Linked DNA regions of Homo sapiens. The protein of the gene in region 2 interacts with the protein of the main gene of each other region in a pairwise test. Each region holds a gene or a part of one and is shown on either strand. Other genes may lie near its edges.

Region 1 (3,500 bases), on a different chromosome or scaffold from region 2:
TACAAAAGTATCAGTCTGTGACAGATTTGAAAATAAACAAACAGGTCAAGGGAAAAGACACCCTTGAGTCTTGAGAATGAATGGGCAAGAGTGGAGAAAAGAAGGTGGAGAGAAGGGTGATAGTTCTTGAAAACCAGGCAGTTCCTTTACAGAATGGATAAGGGATGCATAGGACCATTTGAATTATTCACTGAATTACCAAATTACTATCCAAACTAAATTTATTCAAGACAGACCTAAAAAGAGACATCACGGTGTGGGGAAGGTAGTAAGATTAGTAAGAACTGCAACCACTTCCTTTTCCTGCTTTTAGTCGTCTCAGCTCTACAGCTACTGTTTTGTTTTGTTTGTTTGTTTTTTGTTTTTTCATTTTGGGATCTGTCAGTGTTAGCATCTACAGCTACTGTTCTCCTCTCCAATTTCCCTCTCCTTTCCAAGGACCATGGTGATTCCCATCAGATGTTAAAGACTGACTTAGCCCACACTAACGAGAGGGAATCCCCAAATAGTGGAGACTTACTACTGGAAAGTCCTCTAGAGGTCTTTTTGATCCAGATGGGCAAAATGAGAATCAGAGAGGAAAAGGGACTTGTCTAAAGCCACCTGGCCTGTTACCAGCAGATACCAGGCTTTCACTCCTTGATAACCTGGGTAAATGGGAGATGAGCGAGATTTTTTTGTCAATATCTCCATCGTTTATTCTATCTGATAGATTCAGTTAGGTTAACAAGGAAATGTGCAGGGTCACCATGTTGTACCACTCCAGGCAGCACCCGTCAGAGTGATCTGTGTATAGGAGTTGTGCAATCCAACAGTCCAGGTAGACACCACTTAGGAGAAAAAAGGGCTGTTGTCTGTTTACATGTTTGTTAGATTTTAGAAAGGAAATCTGATTAAACTAACCTATATTAACAGGAAACAAAACTAACATCACTGAGCTGCTCAGAAGTGCTAAGTACTGCATTAGACATTGGCTATCCCATTGACCTGTAACTATACATCTTCAGGGTGGCTATTTTTTTTTAAGTTATTTCATTTTTTTATGAGGGTTGCTTGCTCTTTTTTTTTTTTTTTTTTTTTTTTTTGCCAATGCCTACTATATTGCAAGTCGTCATGGCGGAGTGTTGGGAAGTTTTCAATTAGCAATAATCACACCTCGGATAAACCTCATTGGCTACAATACCACCAAAGGCATGAAGTGTGCATCCTCATCTGGACAATTCCCAGAATACCAGCGTTGAGTGGCCTTTATTCAGAAAAGGAAAAGGGTCTTGTGGTTTTTTTTTTTTTTTTTTTGATCTATGAGTCTATAGAGGGGTATCACAGAAGCTTCCTGAATGACCCTGTTCCATTGTTTCAATCTTTTTCCAGAATGGCATGGTTTAAGAATAATATTCATTATAGCTACTTAATTGAAACCATTTATTTATTTATTTATTTATTTATTTATTTATTTATTTATTGAGACTGAGTCTCGCTCTATCACCCTGGCTGGAGTGCAGTGGTGCGATCTCAGCTCACTGCAACCTGTGCCTCCTGGGTTCAAGAGACTCTCGTGCTTCGGCCTCCTGAGTAGCTGGGATTACAGGTGCCCGCCACCACGCCCATCTAATTTTTGTATTTTTAGTAGACACAGGGTTTCATCATGTTGCCCATGCTGGTCTTGAACTCCTGACCTCAAGTGATCTTCCTCGCTCGGCCTTCCAAAGTTTTGGGATTACAAGCGTGAGCCACCACGCCCGGCCGAAACCATTTATTTCTGATTAAACAATGTGGTATTGTCATCCAGTTGTAGAAACTTGTGCCAGGCTTTCACAGTATGTTGCTTGTGCAATGTGGTCATCCACTGACACTTTTTAAAATCTAGAGGTAAAAACACTGCTTTTAGGGTGCGGTAGGGGGAGTTAAAAATGGAGCTTAAAACTGTATTAATCTTGCCATTTTGTGTGTAGTTGTTGAATTTTTGCTTGTTACACTATTTATTGTGTCTACCTTGCTACTAATGTTTGACATTCTGATACTATCCAAAGCAGATGGTCCTGGTTAGATGATCCTGAATCATCCGTGGAAGAGAGAAGGGGATCTCTCAGCCTGAATGTATGACATATCCCACAGAAACCCCTGGATATGTCTGTAAGTTCCTTTTATCTTCTGGTATCGGAGGGTTTTGTTTGTTTGTTTGTTTCTGGTAAAATGCATATGGGGCTATAATCTTAAAGATCCCTGAACATCGTTGCCAAAATAGTTTTTATCAACAGGTTTTCCAAGTGTTACATTTCTTCATATTACCATTCATGGCTTCCAACTTCTGTCAAATAGCTAAGTACAAATCTGTATTTTAAAAGTTATTTGGGCCAGTTATGGGAGCTGAAGTGGCCTCTTTTTATAGCATTTATTCTGAGTTCTTCACCTTGACATTTTACTGAATTGTTCTTAGTTCATCTGAAGGAAGTCACCCTGAATTCTAAATACATATTTACATTTATCTGAAGAGATAGATAGGAGATAGATGATTGCCAGGTAGATAGATAGAGAGGACCTTAGTATTTGGTCCACTTCCTCTATGAATCTCTCATGCCTTACTAAAGGAAGGGAGGCAGTTAATCCAATAGACCCACTTGGGGAAATAGCAGAGTTGTTAGGTATAAAAGATAGATAATAGGGTTGAGGAGGGTAAGAGGAGAGACATAAAATGGAAATATGCAATGACACACAGGTACACACAGGAACAGACTCTAGAAAAAAAACAAACACAATAATACATAGACATGAACTACCCTATCCTTTTCCTCCCTCACCTTCCCCCAAGTCTCCGAGTTTTCTTTGGGCTCTTCCCATAACCCCCTTCCTTTTCTCCAGTCCTTTCGGCACCTACTTGATGTGTTCTGTGCGTCCAGACCCCTCGATGGTCTTGGCTCCCCATCGTTGCTCCTTTTCAGAGATGTCATTCTGCAAACGACAGCACGCAGTAATACATGACGGCAAGAAATGTGCCACATTGAGAAGGGCCACCCAACTGACACATGCCCTCCATGTCCCCTGTGTCCACTGCCTTCTTCAGTCTGGGTCTTTATTCACATCCCCTCTATATTTATCCCATCCTGACCCCATGTAAGAATTAAACTGGTGAGGCCAGGCGTGGTGGCTTATGCCTGTAATCCTAGCATTTTAGGAGGCCGAGGCGGGTGGATCTCTTTAGGTCAGGAGCTCAAGACTAGCTTGGCCAACATGGTGAAACCCCATCTCTACCAAAAAAATACAAAAATTAGCCAGGTGTGGTGGCATGCACCTGTAGTCCCAACTGCAGGGACTACTTGGGAGGCTGAGGTAGGAGAATCGCTTGAACCTGGGAGGCAGAGGTTGCAGTGAGCTGAGATTGCACCACCGTACTCCAGCCTGGGTGACAGAGTGAGACTCTGTCTCAAAAAACAAACAAGAAAACACAAAGAATTAAACTAGTGAGCTCTGAAACCTCCGTTCCTCCTCTGCCTACTTCATGC
Region 2 (3,500 bases):
TTGTATGTTTAAAATTATTTGTGTGCACATGTGCACGCGCGTGTGTGTATGTGTGTGTTTAACGAACACATTTGAGTTTTGGAATATTCAGCAAAATGATAGTTGCTGGCTGGGTGCAGTGGCTCACACTTGTAAACTTAGCACTTTGGGAGGCTGAAGCAGGAGGATCACTTGAAGCCAGGAGTTTGAGACCAGCCTGGGCTACAAAACGAGACCTTGTCTCTACAAAAAATAAAAAAAATTAGCCAGGCATGGTGGCGCGTGCCTCTAGTCGCAGCTACTTCGGAGGCTGAGGTAGGAGGATGGCTCGAACCTAGGAATTCAAGGTGGCTGTGAGCTAGGATCATGCCACAGCACTCCAGCCTGGGTAACAGAGCAAGACCCTGTATCTAAAAACAATAAAATTAATTAAAGTAATTTTAAAATGATAGATGCTGAAGAGAATATGTTATGTTTAGTCTTATCTCACATTTTCATTCATTTCTATTTAAAAGTAAAGCTTTTTAGGGGAACTTTAATAAATCGGTGTAACTGACAAAAAATTTACAAATACAATATGCTGTATATCAACATGCCTTTACTGAGAAAACAGAGAAAGCAGGCTCCATTATGTTAGCACCTTTTGGTTCTTGATCTTTTTTTCCCCTTATTAAAACAGGTGACTGTAGTCACATGATACTTACTTTAAGGCTTGTGTGTAGATATAGCTATTATATTTGTGGACAGTCTCAAATGCTTTCATCTCATGTGTTTTCCATGTATAGGCAGAAGGAGAAGACAGCCTGAAGAAGATGCAGCTGATGGAGCTTGCGATTCTGAATGGCACCTACAGAGATGCCAACATTAAATCACGTAAGAATGAGCTCTGAGGCCCAGGGTTACTGCTGTCTGCGTTGTTTTGTCTACAGACTTTTTTCCTTTTGGCAACACAATAATAGTTCATACAAAGTGAACAGTTGAAATAACTGTTCTGTCACTTGATATGGGGCTGACAGTCCTATTTTTAATGCTTTCATGAATTGAGGACACTCTTGATTTTATTTTATGTCAGCATGTTGAAGTTTTAGGTTGATAAACTTACATTATTTTAACAAAATCACAATCTCTAAATTCAAGTGTTTAAGAAATTTTCTGTTTGGTTAACTACAGATGTAGGGCTTGCAGCTTATCTTGTTAAATTTATGCAAAAGACAACATATTGAAAGCTTATTTTGAAAAAGTGAATTTGAAGTGTATCTGACTGAAATGACCCTCTGTTGAGTTCTGTCCTTTCACTTTGCTTGCATGTTTTCCCTCTAGTATTTTTCCCTGTTGATTTCATATGTGAGTTCACAGAGATCAGTGGGTGATAACTCTTTTTCCGTCCTATTTTTGTTTTTATGCGTATCTATGCATGTTTTTATAAGCCGTAAGAGGATAGCTTTTTTATGTTTAAAATGAAATAATGTGAAATTTATATTTTGAAACAATTTAAGATTCATACATGTCATTTATATGAACATACCATGTTTAAATTACTGATTATTTAAAACACATAGAATTTTTAAGTTCTAGCCAGATTTAGAAGATGTAGGCAACCTCTAGTGGGTTTAGAAGTAGTTACTTTACAAATTGTTGACATTAATTTACTCATGAAAATGTGAGTATATCATTAATAGGAATTTAGAAGTAGGGCTTTTTAAGATTTTCTGTGACGTTGGTTCCTAAAGATGCAGGAAATGTACATATATACCTAGTGGTTACTTGACTAAATGCAATAAAAATTATTCTTTCTTTACTTTGAAACTAAAGCTGTACTTTAGAAATATACCAAAACTGAGTTTCTGTGGACTCCGGTTACAAATTATTTTTTAACATCTGTTAATGCAAGTGTTTCATTGTGCTTCTGCATGTACTTTAGTCTTATGAAATCTTAGATATATCAAATGTATGAACTAAATATAACCTATTTAATGGTGTCATTCATTTTTTTACAATGGCTTTTTAATTTTTGCACATTCTTAATCACATTGGGAAAGGGAAAGCTGTTTGCATTTGATTGGTGTGCTTTTGCATTTTTGTGTGATCAGCGCATGTACTAATGATTTCCTTTTATTTTTCTTCTTTCCTGCTTTTCCTTTCTTTTTCCTACTCCCTTCTCATTTTTCCGTATTTTATACTGCTGTCTCTATACTTCTTTCTAAATTTCTTTGCTTACTGTAGCAGCCCTTGCCTTTTCTCTTGCAGCAACAGCCCAGGCTGCTCCAAGGATCATTACTGGGCCTGCGCCGGTTCTCCCACCAGCTGCCCTGCGTACTCCTACGCCAGCTGGCCCTACCATAATGCCTTTGATCAGACAAATACAGACCGCTGTCATGCCAAACGGAACTCCTCACCCAACTGCTGCAATAGTTCCTCCAGGGCCCGAAGCTGGTTTAATCTATACACCCTATGAGTACCCCTACACATTGGCACCAGCTACATCAATCCTTGAGTATCCTATTGAACCTAGTGGTGTATTAGGTAAGTTCTTCTCCCCATGGGGTTAACAACATTCTCTTTATAAATATTTTTGCTCCCTCAGATTTTGAAATGATTTTATCAGTTTTAGAGAGGCAAGACAAGTTTGCATTAGGGAAGACCGAAAACTAAATTTTGTTTTATTTCAGCCTCTCATAAGGGTTCCCCTTTGAAATAATTGCACCTTAAATTTATTCAGATCCACTTTGGTAACTGAGGTTCAGTTTGGTTGGGTAAATCTGTTGTGTACATTTCAACAAATACTTTTACATTTGACATTACTGAGGTCATTCTGAGTTTTAGGTCCCACCCCATTGGCCCGTCACCTCCATCAGCTCCACTTCTCAAACTTTATTTGAGATTTATTTTATCTCACAGGTTTGTGTAATTGTTGGAAAATTTTTAAACTTCTAAGTGAAAGTAGTCTGAGCGCTTTATAAAATTCATATTATTGTGTGTGTTTTGTAATATTTGCGATCACTTAAAATATCAGATAAATACAGTCATGCATCGCTTAACAACGGGGATACAGTCTAAGAATTGCCTTGTCTGGCAGTTTCATCATTTGGTGTACATCATAGAGTGTACTTACACAGACATAGATGATATCGTTTACTACACACCTAGGCTGTGTGGTATAGCCATTATAATCTTATGGGACCACATAGTATAAGTGGTCCGTTGTTGACCAAAATGTTGTTATGCAGGCATGACTGTAGTTGTATTCTTAAGATTTTTCAGTTCTTGTGTTTTGGAGTCCTAGTCATATTAAACATGAGAGATACTCTTAATTTCAGTAGTACAGTATGGAATAGTTAAATAAATAGCAAATCACTGAATTCAGAATCTCACTTAAGGCAGAAATTAAAATCATAATATAAACGCTTGGTTTTACATGAACAAAAAGTGGTGTGCTCGAAAAAGACATTACTGATGCCTTTTTTTTATAGAGTGGATTGAAATGCCAGTCATGCCTGATATTTCAGCCCATTGACTTGCTG
Region 3 (3,500 bases), on a different chromosome or scaffold from region 2:
ATTTATGTATGTATTTAAGAAATCACAAGGGCCGGGCATGGTGGCTCATGCCTGTAATCCCAGCACTTATGGGAGGCCAAGGTGGGTGGATGACCTGAGGTCAGGAGTTCGAGACCAGCCTGACCAACATGGTGAAACCCCGTCTCTACTAAAAATAAAAAATCAGCCAGGTGTGGTGGCGCATGCCTATAATCCCAGCTACTTGGGAGGCTGAGGCAGAATTGTTTGAACCTGGGCGGCAGAGGTTGCGGTGAGCTGAGATTGCGCCATTGCACTCCAAACTGGGCAACAAGAGCGAAACGCTGTCTAAAAAAAAAGAAGAAGAAAGAAATCACAAAATATTTGGTTAATTTTAAGGAACATGTAGGAAAATCAGGTGTTAACAAATAACCAGCATTAATTCTCTAATCTGGATTTTATTCTATCATTTGGAGAAGGAATAAAATAGAGAGGGGTGGTTAGGCTTTGAGTATATCCATGTGTCTATAGATTTATCACCGACATTTTTTCTAATAGCTAATGAATTCAGTGAGCAAAGCTGGTTGCTATTTCATGCATTCACACAAGTCAGATCTGCTTTTACATCTTTTTGAAGGAAGTGTTTAACTGACAGGGCAATGACGTGAAGCTGGAAAACACACTCGAGAGATTCTGGCTATTCCTCTCAGTGAGAAACTGAAAAATGTTCCAAGTATTCCTGGCAACTTAATTTTTTTTGAGACAGGGTCTCACTTTGTCACCCAGGCTGGAGTACAGTGGCACAATCTCGGCTCACTGCAGCTTTGACTTCCCAGGCTCTAAGCAATCCTCCTGCCTCAGCCCCACAGGTAGCTGAGATTACACCTGGCTAATTTTTGTATTTTTTGTATAAACAGGATTTTGCCATATTGCTCAGGCTGGTCTTGAACCCCTGAACTCAAGCAGTCCACCCATCCCAGCCTCCCAAAAGGCTGGGATTACAAGCGCGAGCCACTGCACCCAGCCAGGAACTTAATTTTTTTTTAAGTGCTTTCTAACTCTGCCAGGCTGCAGAAGTTAAATAATAAGACATGCCCAATAGCATCTGGCATCCTCTTAGTGCTTTTAATTTTTTTGTCTACTGCTGGTAGTGTCTTTTCAAGTGTGAAGTTATTTGCTGTTTTTTGCAGTGAATTTATAGACAGATGGACTCTTCTCCATCTCTACATTTAATGAACAGAAATGTATTATCTATTCTTAACTCCTACTTAAGGATGAAATCATTTACTTTAAAAAAATACAACTCCTGTTTAAATGGAGTATTTAGTTACTTTTATTTTTTCCTCTCTTTACACTATTTCAAATCTTACGAGTTCTATTTTAAATTAAAAGTCACATTTTAATAATTTACAGATTAAATTCTATCGCATGAGACATCATTACAAATCTTGTAAGAAGTATCAGGATGAATATGGTGTTTCTTCTATCATTCCAAACTTTCAGATCTCTCAAGATTCAGTAGGGAACAGGTAAGCAATACTTATTCCTAAATACAGAATTTTCATAATTGAAATGGAAATTGTTTTGGGAACTATATGATAAGGTATTTGGGGGGATGTGTGTGTGTGTATGTGCACATGTGTTTTTAAAGTGAATTGCCAAGTATCAGAACTACAGCATTTGCCTTAAAATCTGTTTGGCACACGTAAGCTCTCATCTGGGAGATGACTTCATGAACTTCAGCTTATGTTATTTAAAATCATTCTAAGAATTTTCATTTTTTTGAGTAAAAAATAAGTTGGAGATTTTTCTCTTACTGATTTTGCAACTGAAATGATTTGAAAAACTATAGAAAATCCTTTTCAGTAATGTATTTGCAAACTACAACCTGTTTTTTCTTTGCTATCTAAGGGATAGACTTAGAGTTTGAAATTTTTATTCTAAAATGTCATGTAAAAATGAAACCAGGTGCAGTGCAGTTCTGTTTGAGTCTCATTTCTTTTAAACAACTAGATTTGGATTGATTTGTATCTTATCTCAGATTCATGTACATTAAACATTTTTATGAAATGTATTTTACACAGAAAAATGGCCAAAATGCACTTGTGGTTTAAAAAAATAATGATTAACATCCAGTTACCTATTAACCCAGGTCAAGAAAGAACATTTTTCAAAACTTCAGGATCTCTATGTGAGCTCCTGCCCATTTGAACCGTACACTCCTAGATGCAACCACTATTCTCTTATTTGGATTATTCATTCCTTTGATTTTCTTTATGTATCATCACCCATGCATGTATCCCTAAACAATGCATTGTTAATTTTGAAAACTTCAGTAGTAAGCACATACGTAACTGTAAGGAAAGACAATATTGCCACTATTATAGAAAGGTTCCCAGGAGACAGTATGTTAAGCAGTCTCTAATATTTTATTTTAGTAGCCTTTCATTTTACATATTGCTAATTTTTAGTAACTTAACCGCCCTTAAGCACTTCATGTTGATCATACTACATTAGGCGTCTTCCCTACTCAGTTGAAATTTCTGGTAAAAACCTTTAGTGATTGTCTGGTAAAGATCTGCAGTAATTTTCTGATTGCCTAGTCTGAAAAAACTTCAGGTTCTCATTTTACTTGACTTGTTAGTGTCAAGGAAATTTGTTTGAAAGTTGTTGCTCTTATAGTTTTTTTTTAGTCCTTCTGGGTTTCTTCATTTCTATGTTTTTCTTATTGTTGTACTTCTACTTTATTGTAATTTCCTATCTGCTTTTTTACCCAATAGATTGTTCTTAAGTGAGGGGATGGTGTTTGTCTTGTTGAGCATATCTCCAGCTTTTAGTAAAGTTCTTAGTATACATGATTGTAATCACGCTTTTAATGACCAAATTTTCTTATCAGGAGACAGGCCTTCCTCCCCCTTATTTCTTAGATCCACTTGGTCATAGACACTTGATTCCTAATAGCAATATTCCTCATCTGTACTTTTATTTTATCTTGTCACTTCCCTAGCTCAGGCCCTCATCATCTCTCACTCGAACTATGATAATAGCCTTTTTAGCTGGTAGTTATCCTCTAATCTGTTTTACATTCTATCGCCAAAGTAATATTAATGAAGTATAAAAGACAAAATTCTGGCTGGGCGCGGTGGCTCACACCTGTAATCCCAGCATTTTGGGAGGCCAAGGTGGGCAGATCACTTGAGGTCAGGAGTTCAAGACCAGCCTGGCCATCATGGTGAAACCTTGTCTCTACTAAAAATACAAAAATTAGCTGGACGTGGTGGCGCGTGCCTATAGTCCCAGCTACTTGGGAGGCTTAGGCAGGAGAATCACTTGACCCTAGGAAACGGAGGTTGCAGTGAGCCGAGAGCACATCACTGCACTCTAGCCTGGGCGACAGAGTCAGACTCCGTCTAAAACACACACACACGCACACACACGCACGCACGCACACACACACTTCCTTATTCCAAAGCCCTTTCTGATCTGGCCCTTTCCTCTCTTTTTATAGCCTCTTTCTTGGTTATCCATCGTTGCATCACATG
Region 4 (3,500 bases), on a different chromosome or scaffold from region 2:
TTTTTTTTTTTTTTTTGAGACGGAGTCTCGCTCTGTCACCCAGGCTGGAGTGCAGTGGCACTATCTCCGCTCACTGCAAGCTCCGCCTCCCGGGTTCATGCCATTCTCCTGCCTCAGCCTCCCGAGTAGCTGGGACTACAGGCGCCCACCACCATGCCCGGCTAATTTTTTGTATTTTTGGTAGAGATGGGGTTTCACCATGTTAGCCAGGATGTTCTTGATCTCCTGACCTCGTGATCCACCCACCTCGGCCTTCCAGAGTGCTGGGATTACAAGCGTGAGCCACCACGCCCGGCCCAAAATTCTTTTATTTACCGATATGTTAACAATGTATTCATTCAGCAAGTATTTATCAAGGGGCTGTTATGTCCTCTAGGATCTTAGGATAGTATCAGTTGAACATAGAAAGTTGGTGGCTAGAAGATAACCAGTGCCCTTGTCACCATTCTGCCAAGGATCATAGCTTGTTAAATTGAGGAGCCACATATATTTATAACATATTCGTCATTTTTCTTAGATTTTAGTATCATTTTGAAATGGCCTAACACTTTATAAATAGTTGTACTTCTCCTTTATCCTAGATATAAACCACAGTACTTCAGGATCCCATTATGAAAATTCCCAGCGGGGACCTGTGTCTTCTACAAGTGATTCTAGCACAAACTGTAAGAATGCTGTTGTAAGTGACTTGTCGGAAAAAGAAGCATGGCCCTCAGCCCCTGGCAGTGATCCGGAGTTGGCTTCAGAATGTATGGATGCTGATTCTGCCTCCAGTTCTGAATCAGAGAGAAACATCACTATCATGGCTTCAGGGAACACAGGTGGTGAAAAAGATGGCCTTCGGAATAGCACTGGACTTGGTTCCCAAAACAAGTTTGTAGTTGGTAGCAGCAGCAATAATGTGGGCCATGGAAGTAGTACTGGGCCATGGGGTTTTTCCCATGGAGCCATAATAAGCACATGTCAGGTCTCTGTGGATGCTCCTGAAAGCAAATCTGAAAGTAGCAACAATAGAATGAATGCTTGGGGCACTGTAAGTTCTTCATCAAATGGAGGGTTAAATCCAAGCACTTTGAATTCAGCTAGCAACCATGGTGCCTGGCCAGTATTAGAGAACAATGGACTTGCCCTAAAAGGGCCTGTAGGGAGTGGTAGTTCTGGCATTAATATTCAGTGCAGTACTATAGGCCAGATGCCTAACAATCAGAGTATTAACTCTAAAGTGAGTGGTGGTTCTACCCATGGTACCTGGGGAAGCCTTCAGGAAACTTGTGAATCTGAAGTAAGTGGTACACAGAAGGTTTCATTCAGTGGTCAACCTCAAAATATTACCACTGAAATGACTGGACCAAATAACACTACTAACTTTATGACCTCTAGTTTACCAAACTCCGGTTCAGTGCAGAATAATGAGCTGCCTAGTAGTAACACAGGGGCCTGGCGTGTGAGCACAATGAATCATCCTCAGATGCAGGCTCCATCAGGTATGAATGGCACTTCCCTTTCTCACCTTAGCAATGGAGAGTCAAAAAGTGGAGGCTCTTATGGTACTACATGGGGTGCCTATGGTTCTAATTACTCTGGAGACAAATGTTCAGGCCCTAATGGCCAAGCTAATGGTGACACTGTGAATGCAACTCTAATGCAGCCTGGCGTAAATGGTCCTATGGGCACTAACTTTCAAGTTAACACAAACAAAGGAGGTGGTGTGTGGGAATCTGGTGCAGCAAACTCCCAGAGTACATCATGGGGAAGTGGAAATGGCGCAAATTCTGGAGGAAGTCGAAGAGGATGGGGAACCCCTGCACAAAACACTGGCACTAATTTACCCAGCGTTGAGTGGAACAAACTGCCTAGCAATCAGCATTCCAATGATAGTGCAAATGGCAATGGTAAGACGTTTACAAATGGATGGAAATCTACTGAGGAAGAGGATCAGGGTTCTGCCACATCTCAGACAAATGAGCAAAGCAGTGTGTGGGCCAAAACAGGAGGTACAGTGGAGAGCGATGGTAGTACAGAAAGCACTGGACGCCTTGAGGAAAAAGGAACTGGGGAAAGTCAGAGTAGAGACAGAAGAAAAATTGATCAGCACACATTACTCCAAAGCATTGTAAACAGAACTGACTTAGATCCACGTGTCCTGTCCAACTCTGGTTGGGGACAGACTCCTATTAAGCAGAATACTGCCTGGGATACAGAAACATCACCTAGAGGGGAACGAAAGACTGACAATGGGACAGAGGCCTGGGGAAGCTCTGCAACACAGACTTTTAACTCAGGGGCATGTATAGATAAGACTAGCCCTAATGGTAATGATACCTCATCTGTATCAGGGTGGGGCGATCCCAAACCTGCTCTGAGGTGGGGAGATTCCAAAGGCTCAAACTGCCAGGGGGGGTGGGAAGATGATTCTGCTGCTACAGGAATGGTCAAGAGCAATCAGTGGGGGAATTGCAAAGAGGAGAAGGCTGCATGGAATGACTCGCAAAAGAATAAACAGGGATGGGGTGATGGACAAAAATCAAGCCAAGGGTGGTCTGTTTCTGCCAGTGATAACTGGGGAGAAACTTCAAGGAATAACCATTGGGGTGAGGCCAATAAGAAATCCAGCTCAGGAGGTAGTGACAGTGACAGGTCCGTTTCCGGTTGGAACGAACTTGGTAAAACTAGTTCTTTCACTTGGGGAAACAACATAAATCCAAATAATTCATCAGGATGGGATGAATCTTCTAAACCTACTCCTTCCCAGGGATGGGGAGACCCTCCAAAGTCTAATCAGTCTCTAGGTTGGGGAGATTCGTCAAAGCCAGTCAGCTCTCCAGACTGGAACAAGCAACAAGACATTGTTGGATCTTGGGGAATCCCACCAGCTACAGGCAAACCTCCTGGTACAGGCTGGCTGGGGGGACCTATACCAGCCCCAGCAAAAGAAGAAGAACCCACAGGCTGGGAGGAACCATCCCCAGAATCTATACGTCGCAAAATGGAGATTGATGATGGAACTTCAGCTTGGGGAGATCCAAGCAAATACAACTACAAAAATGTGAACATGTGGAACAAAAACGTCCCAAATGGCAACAGCCGTTCAGACCAGCAAGCACAGGTACATCAGCTGCTAACGCCTGCAAGTGCCATCTCAAACAAAGAGGCAAGCAGTGGCTCTGGTAAGTTTCTATTTTATGAAATCAAGCCTTGTTTTAACTTACTGTTATTATAAGATTTGTATAACAAAGTACTTGGATATGCACACAAAGGCTGTTCTTACTGTAATCCAGAAGCAGCTTGAAAAAAATTATAGGGGTGATGTTTACCACCAGAGAACAGAACTCCACTTTTGGCAGTGTTGTTTGAGTCCTGCACACTTCATTCTCTATTAGAAATGCAAGAGAAGGCGAATTGGACAAAGGCGGTCAAGTGGGAATGCTGTACACTTCTCCAAGTTGTTTTTGAGTTAGGCCTTAACTTGTGGTTTTATTATTTGACTAAAATATCTCCAG
Region 5 (3,500 bases), on a different chromosome or scaffold from region 2:
ATAGGCCAGGAACAGTGGCTCACACCTGTAATCCCAGCACTCTGGGAGGCTGAGGCGGGTGGATTACCTGAGGTCAGGAGTTCGAGACTACCCTGGCCAATATGGTGAAACCCTGTCTCTACTAAAAATACAAAAATTAGCCAGGTGTGGTGACACACGCCTGTGATCCCAGCTACTTGGGAGGCTGAGGCAGGAGAATCGCTTGAACCTGGGAGGCAGAGGTTGGCAGTGAGCTGAGATAGTGCCACCGCACTCCAGCTTGGGCAACAGAGTGCGACTCTGTCTCAAAAAAAAAAAAAAAAAGATAATAAATATAAAAACTGAAATTATATATACATGTAAGATATATATATGTTACTATCACTAGTACACTCAGTATTTGCATATTATAATGTAAACTATATAAAGTACATCTGAGAGTTTTAAAATAATTAATCTCCTACCTCCACCTTGAGCTTTTTTTTCTGCAAATGAATTATTTTTATGTCCTCAATTTCATTCGTTCAGCTGAAAAACATAATGTCACCTACCTATACAGCTTGGGGGTCTTATGGGCCTGAGTTTAAATACTTGCTCAGCCAAGTATTAGCTGTGGGATCATGGCTGTCAGAGCTTTTCAGAGCTTCTCTTCTACTGGCCAGCTGGGGATAGTATTAACTTTGTGGGGCTCTCCTGCTCTTCTTAGGTTCAAATTATATGAGATATGTATGTAAAACAGCCAGTTTCTAACACATGCCCTTGAAATATTCATTTCCCCCCCAACTCCCTGTAACAGGCTTAGGAGAACTCAATGAGATGCTCTCATGGGAAAATTGAATGCTTTGAATTTTGGTCTCCTTGTAGACTTTGGTTTTTCCCAGATCTGCAGACCATTCATAATTACGCATGGATTTTCTGTTCTAGAAGCACCTTACTTCTGTGTGACCATTTGGGGTGCAGAGCCAGCACAGGTTTTGTGCTTGAATGCCTAGCAGTCAGAGCTGAAAAAGCAAAGCAAATCAACCTGTCTTCTTGCTCTTCCTTGGCATCTAGGCTACCAATGGTCCCAAAGTCTAGTCTAAATGCACACGCTGCCCATGAAGGCATTTGGGGACAAGCATGTGCACCCCCAGGGACAGTTCTAAGTTTTTCCTGTCCTTCAAAATTCAAGTCAATTAGCTGCTGGAAAAAAATCAATAACTCCAAGTTTTAAAAATCCAGTTTATAATGCATCTCCTCCAGCAGCTTTACCCAGCACATCCTTGCCAGAGTGCCCTAAGTTTAGACTCCCACTTTTTAACTTTCTATTTGAACTGCTAATTAAGATAATGCCTGTGAACGCCCTTTGTAAAGTGTAAGAAACTACACATATGTTAATTCTCCTTCTGAAGACATTTGAGTGCTTAACCATCCTTATCTCATTTGTAAATATCTTGTTTCCTTGCTATTGTGGATTGCAAACGGCCGCAGCATTTTCAGTGTTCTTGACTCCTCCCTTTTTCCTCTGAGGTCATGTACCACCCTGGAGCTCTTCTACAGCAACCAGCTTGCAGTCAATGCCCATAAACCTTGGACCTGCCCATCTGTCTGCCAAGACCCATGCCTGAAAAGAGTTCTATAAACATGGCTACATCCTCAGCCTCCTCTCTCAGCTCTCCCCCAGGCTGCGTCCCTGAACCTCGCAGCTTGTCTGTGCCCAGAGAATACACACTAACTGTGATGTTAGGGTAAAACCAACAAATAAACCCAAAACTTAGTGTTTCAAAAGGAAATATATTTTTTTTTTTTGATTTTTTTTTTGTTTTTTTTTTTTGTAACTCTGCTTTTAAGGAAAAAGGGGGAAAGCGAAATTCTGCAGAGTCAGGAAACAGGTTTCCTTGCTAGAGATAGAGACAGTGAGATAAAGGCATGGGGCTTCCCCCACACCCTGCAGCTCAGAAGTGTGGGACAGGAGTCTAAGACTTCCTGTTGTTGGCTGGTATTTACAGCTTTTTAGATGATATGTCCATTTTCCCCAGGCACTTTGGGGCCAAAACTCAGTATGCTGAGACTCAGAAATTGCTCTCAGTAGCTTCATATTTTGATTTTTTTTTGCACCATTCTTATCTATCTATTGCTCATCTGACATCTTTATATGTTATTTAAACAGTACTTATCTGGAGAAATATAACAGAGGTCAAGAAAGTACATACATACAGATACCTAAAACTCAAAAGTCCATCTCTTGTTCTCCCCCAATCACTAAAACTGCCCCAAGCCTAAAATTAATCTGATGGTTAACAATGCTAAATTAATATTAGCCAATAAAGTTATTCAAGTCTTTGAAACTTACAATTTTGCATCATTTATTTTTGTACACACACACAAAGGCAGGTATTAGGTTACTGAGTTGGGTTTCTCACCAAATAGCAAAAGCCAGGGAAGCCCAGAGGTGTTTAATAAACACTTGTTGACTGATTGATGGAATATACTACCTAGTATAATTCAGACAATGCATTCTTTGTCAAAACACTAAGGTAAATTATTGAGTCCACTTTTATTACCAAGCGTTTCTGCTGTATTGAGGAGGGCAGGCCAGCCCAAAACTCGTCCATCAGCCTCAGAGCTCAGGTTTACAAAAGAAACCCTTAGGCCTTACCTTTCACACCTGTTTTTACTCTCAGCAGAGGAGGCCGGGACTGGTCTCCATAAACAACTGTGTAGTTGGAGCCGTGCAGTCGGAGGCCCAGGCCTGATGCAGACCCAGCCACGCAGCACCTTTGGCTCTTTACTACGAATATTATCACGGCTGCAACAAATAGTTTGTGCACATTTTTTAAAAGAAAAAAAAAACTGAGAAGAGTATAAAACTGGAGAAAAAAAAATAGTATGTTAACTAATTTACAAAGCCCGGTTAAGTCTTCCTGCCTCATTCTTCTGAGAGAAACCAAAGCATTAAAATATCAAGCTCTTTGCTCTCCCCAGCAGTGGACATCCATGCTCATCCAGTTGAGTCGACCCTTCCGGAAAGGATGCCTGGGCCCATGACACCTTTACTTCTCTTTGCAGCTATTTCCTGCCTTTCTTTGCTAGGCCTTTAGCTTGGGTCTTGAGCAGATTTCGTGAACAGGGCGAACTGTCCTCTCCTGTTCTGCCATGCCCCAGGGATCTGTGCTTGCCTGGCCTGACTCTTGACCTGCAGCTCTCTCTGGGCTTTCTTGCTTGTTGATTTTTATGCCCACACCTCCCTACCTTTTTATAACCCCCTTTATCTCCACTGCCCACCTGCCCCCTAGAGTTGCCAGGTTTCTCTGCTTGGCACAACCCAGCCAGCTCTGACATGTAGCTGTACCTGAAGATGGTAAAGGCCCCCAAAACTATGTTTTCAACAACCAACATGTCTTGTAGTTATCCACCTTTTCCCGAATCAGAATCCTTCACCCCTTGCAATGTTGCCAACCTATTTCTATGTTGATAATCTGTTTTGTCATTTTGGAAATGTAAACAAATCAGTATACCTTCCTTTTCATCTTTTTCTTGTT
Region 6 (2,517 bases), on a different chromosome or scaffold from region 2:
TAAATAATCATTTGAGTTCTTTCAGAGAGTACTTAATCTTTTAAAAGACAGGGTAAAGTGGAGTATTCAGAGGACTTTACCTAGTTTTTCAGGAACTGGTTTTTTTTGGCTAGCAAGACTGTGATAAATACGCTTTGAGCTCTTCAGAGGAAAGATTTCAGTAACATTTGGTCATGTTTGGTAATAACAATGGTAATGTTTTGTTGTTTTATCCAAATAAATTTAAAACTTTGTTTTCAATTATTCTTTCCAGAAGGCTTATCAGGTTGGTCGCAATCTGTGATGGGGAACCATCCAATGCATCAACAATTATCAGACCCAAGCACATTCTCCCAACATCAGCCAATGGAGAGAGATGATTCTGGAATGGTAGCCCCCTCTAACATTTTTCATCAGCCTATGGCAAGTGGTTTTGTGGATTTTTCTAAAGTGAGTTGACAAACATCACTGTAACTTGATTGACACTTTGTCAGCCAATGTAGTCACATTAAGGAATACCTTGTATTGAAATAATGCTCCCTTTTGTTTCTGTGGCTTTGCTAGATCTTTTGCTTAATTTCAGGAGTGCACAGAGTTGTCCACAGTAGTTTGTCCTGAAGATGTCCCCATCCCCCGAAAACACCTGAGGGATTTGGGTTTTGCCACTTTGTGCTCTGCTACTACAGCTTTGAGGGAGGCCTCTACCCCTCTTAAAAGCTGGCCATGAGTTCACTGATGCTTTCTTGTCTGCTCTGACAGCTTTATGTCGGCAATCAATTATGTAGAGTTCCCATTTTCTTCTTAGCTCAAGCTTATTCATGAAACTAAAATATGGGAAAGTTGAGGTTATTTTTATCAAATATGAGAAATTTCCTGATGATTTCATATTGGATTTAGTTTCTTTCTCTCTCTTGTTTTTTGTTGAAAAGCTTTGCAGATGCAGATAAACATTTTGTTTTCTCAACACTGCCATACTGTACTTATAGGATCTTTTGGAGTTCTTTAAATGAGGAATATTAGAGAAGTCTAAGCTGGTATTATGGGATTTATAGTAATTTTATAATTTATAGTAATTTTAAGATTAAATCTTTTTTCCTGCTGTTTTAGGGTCTGCCAATTTCCATGTATGGAGGCACCATAATACCCTCTCATCCTCAGCTTGCTGATGTTCCAGGAGGCCCTCTGTTTAATGGACTTCACAATCCAGATCCTGCTTGGAACCCTATGATAAAAGTTATCCAAAATTCAACTGAATGCACTGATGCCCAGCAGGTAAAATGGGCTTAATGCTCTTTTGTTTTTTAGATTTGTCACATCATTCTTTTTGTTTTGTGAGAAGTATAAGTACTGAATATCAAAAGTCATAATTGACCATTTCGATCTGGATTGCTTTTTCAATATCAAGATGATGCTACTGAACACTTTATTTAATATATGTGTATTCTTCCTAGGCAGAAACAGTGAATTGCCATTGCATTTATATATTCATTTTGTAACTGTCTAAAGATTCCTAATTAGAAATTCCAATTTTTCCTCCCCCTTTTCAGATTTGGCCTGGCACGTGGGCACCTCATATTGGAAACATGCATCTCAAATATGTCAACTAAGTTAGAAGGTCTTTACTCTTTAGCCTTGTTTAAGAAACCTATGACCTTGGAAGAACCATGGGGATTTTTTTTTAATGTGCCTAAGAAATTTTCTCTGAGGCTTTAGCAATGGAAATTTGATTGCCCATTGTATAAGAACAAATTGATTTCCTATCCACCTGATTATGTTCTCTGGTTAGTTTAGCCATTTTGAACTTAAGATCATATGACCTTAGTGCTTTTGGCTAAACATACAGAATACTACTTGTATGCAGAAGAGAATTAGTTGATTACATGTTTCAACCTTTTAGGGTGATAAATACATGTATAATTGTTTACATACTTAAAAGGAAAAAGTTGAGTAAATTTCTTGTCATATAGTGGCTCTACGTAATGTAGCCTGTATTAATGTGAAATATTTACCAGAATATTCAATAAAAAGATGAACAGTCTTTAGAAGTGGGGTGTGATCCTTTCAGTGGTCATGCAGGTACCACTCAATCCACATTATATTGAACCAGATGGTTAATACTATATTTGTAACAGGCTTCTCACATTTAACACTTGAGTCCCTTCTTAGACTGCCTTAAAAAAGCACTTTTAAGACTATTTACCTATTTATTCTGTGTTAAACATTCCTTGTTCCCTTGTTGTCTTCCATAATCCTTTAACATATGAGAAAGTTTCAAGCTCTGGCAATGTGTCTTATCTGACTTTAGCTAGCAGATAGGCCACTGATAGGTTTTTTCTCTATGGATCATGAGAATGTCAATAAGAACAATTGGATTTAAATCAGATGACACTAAACAAATGTAGGGACACCCAAATTATCAACTTCAGGTTCCTTCTGTGCTTCCTGACCTTTTTTATCTGAAAGATTTGTCTGGTTATAGATATTTTAAGCTTTATATGAGTTGGGACATAAGGAGGTGACTCCTGTCATTCTGTTGTA
Region 7 (3,500 bases), on a different chromosome or scaffold from region 2:
AACAAAACAAAAAACACAACAACAAAATAAACAACCTTGTCACTAAGTCTTTTCCAAAAGCAAAAAACCCTTCCGTTGAAGTTAATTATCCACCACAAAGCCTCTAAACCTGTTAAAGATAATTTTTCAGATCAGCTTTCTCCTCTCTGACTAAAGCATATTAATTTTCAAAATCTTTTAAATAAACCGTTTTTTTTTTTTTAAAGAGATGGGGTCTCGGCCAGGCATGGTGGCTCACGCCTGTAATCCTAGCACTTTGGGAGGCCAAGGTGGGCTGATCACGAAGTCAGGAGTTCAAGGCCAACCTGGCCAGTATGGTAAAGCCCCGCCTCTACTAAAAACAGAAAAATTAGCGGGCGTGGTGACGCGCGCCTGTAGCCCCAGCTGCTGGGGAGGCTGAGGCAGAATAGCTTGAACCCGGGAAGTGGGGGTTGCAGTGAGCTGAGATCATGCCACTATACTCCAGCGTGGGCGGCAAAGTGAGGCTCTGTCTCAAAAAAAAAAAGATAGGGTTTCACTATGTTGCTCAGGCTGGTCTCAAACTCCTGCTTAAGTGATCCTCTAGCCTCTGCCTCCCAAATTACTGAAGTGATGGGATTACAGGCATGAGGCACCCACCCGCCCCTCCTCCCTACCTTTTTTCAGACAAGGTCTCACTGTCGCTCAGGCCAGAGTGCAGTGGTGCAATCACAGATCACTGCAGCCTCGACCTCCTAGGCTCAAGCAACCCTCCCACCTCCACCTCCTAAGTAGCTGGGACCACCACACTTGGCTAATTTTTGTATTTTTTGTAGAGACAGGGTCTCCCTATGTTGCCCAGGCTGGTCTCGAACTCCTGGCTCAAACAATCCTCCCATCTTGGCCTCCCAAAGTGCTGGGATCATAGGTGTGAGCCATCATGCCAAGCCTAATTCTTAAAATCATTAATGTTGCAGCTTGAAAACTAAGTGGCAATGGCTTTACTATTCTTAGTCAATTTTCCTAATTTAAATTGAAAGTTCATAATGATAATAACAATGGCTATTAATTATTGAGAACTTACTATGTGACAGGTACCATGAGTGCTAAATGGTCTACATGGACTCTCTCACTAAAACTTAGCAAGTCACTGGGACAGTTGCTTTTATTATCTTCATTTACAAATGAAACTGTGGAACAGAAAGTAATATGGCCAATTATTAGTGGAGAAACTGGGATTCAAATTGGTACCTGAATGCAGACACCATACTCTCACTCAGATACCAGGTTAAGGCAGTCAAGAAACAAGCAGAAACAGCTGAATCTCAGGGTAAGACTCCCCATAAATGTGCAGAAAATCTGCCCTGAAATTCCAGTTATGTAAATCAGAAGTTCCCCCTACCCTTGCTGCATTTACTTTTGCTTTAAAGAGAGAGAATTCTTCACTATAAATCTTTTTTTAATAAAAAATCCCCCAGCAGCCAGGAACGGGGCTTCTCCCCACCTTTCTCAGTGGTGCCGGTCCCGTTCTCTATCCCGGTGTCTCTCATGCTCCCGGTTCCTTTCTTGGAAATAATCATCATGCCGATCTTCATTATGAAGCAGATCCCGGTGCCTCCTGCTGCTCTCCCGGGACCGGCTAGGTGACCTTTCCCGGGAGCGATGTCTTTTCCTATTAGAAAGATCCTTCAGCCTCACTCAGAAGGCCTACCACTTTCTTTCCAAGAATGTGGTGTTTTGGTGTCTTCTGATATTTGCCTAAACTATTCCTCTATTACTCTATCATGGGCCTGCTGTCTGAGGATTTTAGCTCTTTGAGGACTACTCTTTTTTGGGAAGATGATTAACAGGTAAATTTATCTGTTGAGAACTAATTTATCAGGTGTAGTGCTAATAATTTTGTATGGATTATCTGACCTAATCTTTACAACAGGTCTGTAAGATAAATACTATCAGTGTCCCTTTTTTAGAAAATGAGAAAAATAAGGCTTGGAAAGTTGACTAACTTCCATACACAAGAAGGTCATACAGATAGTTAGCAGCAGAACTGGGATTCCAATCCAAGCTTGTAGGGCTCCAAAACCCATGTTCTTAAAAATATCTGTCTGTATTTTTTCCTACATGAGCCCACTGCCTCACCCACCAGATTCCAGATGTTACAACACTTATTAATGAAAGCATCTGATTAGTTTCTTCCCCAAAAAGACATGAAGGCTAACGTCCAGACTTTCGGCCAGGTCTTTCCCAGATTCCCTGGGCTCCATTTGTCCCCACTCCCTATCCCTGGAAGAGTGCTGCTTGGGGCTGGTAGGTGAGGACACAATCACCAACTCACCTGGAAGAGCTCCCACTGGCACCCACACTGTAGGACTTGGCTTCGATGCCATGAAGACAGTCCTTAAGAGAGGAGATGAGGACACGGCAACGCTCATCATTGGCAACCCGGGACTGTTTGATAACCGCAATGGCTGTGAGCAGCGTCTCAATTGCGTCACTGTAATCCCCTGATAAAGGATGAAGGAGAAAGGCCAAGGGTGAGGAGAGATGGTAAACTAACTGGACCAAAAGGAGAACTCAGGCAGACACAAACCAAGAGTAGCTAGCCGTCCCAAACAACCGCGGTAAAAGAGACAAGGCAGATGTTGCAAGTGTAAAACTGGATGACACCTATATTCCAGCAGTTCGGAATTTAACAGATGTTGTCAGATGAACAAACTGACACACTGTTGTCCAGGGGCTATTTGACATCTATTAAAATAAACAATGTGCATATTTTTTGAGCCAGCAATTCTATTAAAAATTTTCTACTTCTGTTCACAAGTGTGTATGTTTAACAGTGTTTTAGTGTTTATTTTTTTTCATTTTTTTTTTTTTTGAGACAGTCTCACTCTGTTGCCCAGGCTGGAGTGCAGTGGCCGTGATCTCGGCTCACTGCAAGCTCCGCCTCCCAGGTTCACGCCATCCTCCTGCCTCAGCCTCCTGAGTAGCTGGGACTACAGGCGCCTGCCACCACACCCAGCTAATGTTTTGTATTATTAATAGAGACGGAGTTTCACCGTGTTAGCCAGGATGGTCTTGATCTCCTGACCCTGTGATCCGCCCGCCTTGGCCTCCCAAAGTGCTGGGATTACAGGCATGAGCCACTGCGCCCGGCCAGTGTTGTTTGTTATATTATCTTCAATAGGGTCTGGCTATATAAAGGAACATTGGTTCTACAGAATATTACATTATTAATGTACTATTAACAATTAAAAAAGCAGGAGGTAAACCTGTATGTAAACAAAGTAATCCATGTAAAGCCCTTAGCACAGTGCCAGGCACACAGTAAGGATCAATAAATGTTATGTTATATGTTGATATAATAGGTGTCCAGAATATACTAATTGAAACAAGCAAGTTTCAAAACCATATCCTGTTTTTGTAAAAACAATAAAAATTATATAAATTGTCATATGCATAGAAAAAATTCTGGAGGAATATAAACTATAAAAGGTGGTCTTATTGGTTGATGGTCCTTGTATAGAGGACTATTTTGTTTTTGA

The links.
Region 1: the proteins of QKI (region 2) and HCLS1 interact in a two-hybrid assay, tested with the Homo sapiens proteins (one large-scale study listed by BioGRID and IntAct).
Region 3: the proteins of QKI (region 2) and RNF138 interact in a two-hybrid assay, tested with the Homo sapiens proteins (one large-scale study listed by BioGRID and IntAct).
Region 4: the proteins of QKI (region 2) and TNRC6A interact in a two-hybrid assay, tested with the Homo sapiens proteins (one large-scale study listed by BioGRID).
Region 5: the proteins of QKI (region 2) and MBNL2 interact in a two-hybrid assay, tested with the Homo sapiens proteins (one large-scale study listed by BioGRID).
Region 6: the proteins of QKI (region 2) and ANKHD1 interact in a two-hybrid assay, tested with the Homo sapiens proteins (one large-scale study listed by BioGRID).
Region 7: the proteins of QKI (region 2) and CPSF7 interact in a two-hybrid assay, tested with the Homo sapiens proteins (one large-scale study listed by BioGRID).

What each region holds. Positions count from the first base shown.
Region 1 is NC_000003.12:121,654,404-121,657,903, forward strand, and holds part of HCLS1 (hematopoietic lineage cell-specific protein), read right to left. Parts: intron 2,950-3,500; coding exon 2,876-2,949; intron 1-2,875. UniProt on the Homo sapiens protein: Substrate of the antigen receptor-coupled tyrosine kinase. Plays a role in antigen receptor signaling for both clonal expansion and deletion in lymphoid cells. May also be involved in the regulation of gene expression.
Region 2 is NC_000006.12:163,561,218-163,564,717, forward strand, and holds part of QKI (KH domain-containing RNA-binding protein QKI), read left to right. Parts: intron 1-764; coding exon 765-852; intron 853-2,202; coding exon 2,203-2,502; coding exon of another isoform or gene 2,503-2,528; exon of another isoform or gene 2,529-3,449; coding exon of another isoform or gene 3,450-3,493; exon of another isoform or gene 3,494-3,500. UniProt on the Homo sapiens protein: RNA reader protein, which recognizes and binds specific RNAs, thereby regulating RNA metabolic processes, such as pre-mRNA splicing, circular RNA (circRNA) formation, mRNA export, mRNA stability and/or translation.
Region 3 is NC_000018.10:32,112,374-32,115,873, forward strand, and holds part of RNF138 (E3 ubiquitin-protein ligase RNF138), read left to right. Parts: intron 1-1,371; coding exon 1,372-1,487; intron 1,488-3,500. UniProt on the Homo sapiens protein: E3 ubiquitin-protein ligase involved in DNA damage response by promoting DNA resection and homologous recombination.
Region 4 is NC_000016.10:24,788,651-24,792,150, forward strand, and holds part of TNRC6A (trinucleotide repeat-containing gene 6A protein), read left to right. Parts: intron 1-581; coding exon 582-3,167; intron 3,168-3,500.
Region 5 is NC_000013.11:97,225,333-97,228,832, reverse strand, and holds part of MBNL2 (muscleblind-like protein 2), read right to left. Parts: intron 1-3,500. UniProt on the Homo sapiens protein: Mediates pre-mRNA alternative splicing regulation. Acts either as activator or repressor of splicing on specific pre-mRNA targets. Inhibits cardiac troponin-T (TNNT2) pre-mRNA exon inclusion but induces insulin receptor (IR) pre-mRNA exon inclusion in muscle.
Region 6 is NC_000005.10:140,537,833-140,540,349, forward strand, and holds the end of ANKHD1 (ankyrin repeat and KH domain-containing protein 1), read left to right. Parts: intron 1-253; coding exon 254-429; intron 430-1,086; coding exon 1,087-1,251; intron 1,252-1,526; coding exon 1,527-1,586; 3' UTR 1,587-2,017; downstream 2,018-2,517. Other genes in the region: ANKHD1-EIF4EBP3 protein, read left to right, coding at 254-429, 1,087-1,251. UniProt on the Homo sapiens protein: May play a role as a scaffolding protein that may be associated with the abnormal phenotype of leukemia cells. Isoform 2 may possess an antiapoptotic effect and protect cells during normal cell survival through its regulation of caspases.
Region 7 is NC_000011.10:61,409,476-61,412,975, forward strand, and holds part of CPSF7 (cleavage and polyadenylation specificity factor subunit 7), read right to left. Parts: intron 2,463-3,500; coding exon 2,294-2,462; intron 1,631-2,293; coding exon 1,468-1,630; 3' UTR 1,463-1,467; exon of another isoform or gene 1,106-1,462; intron 1-1,105.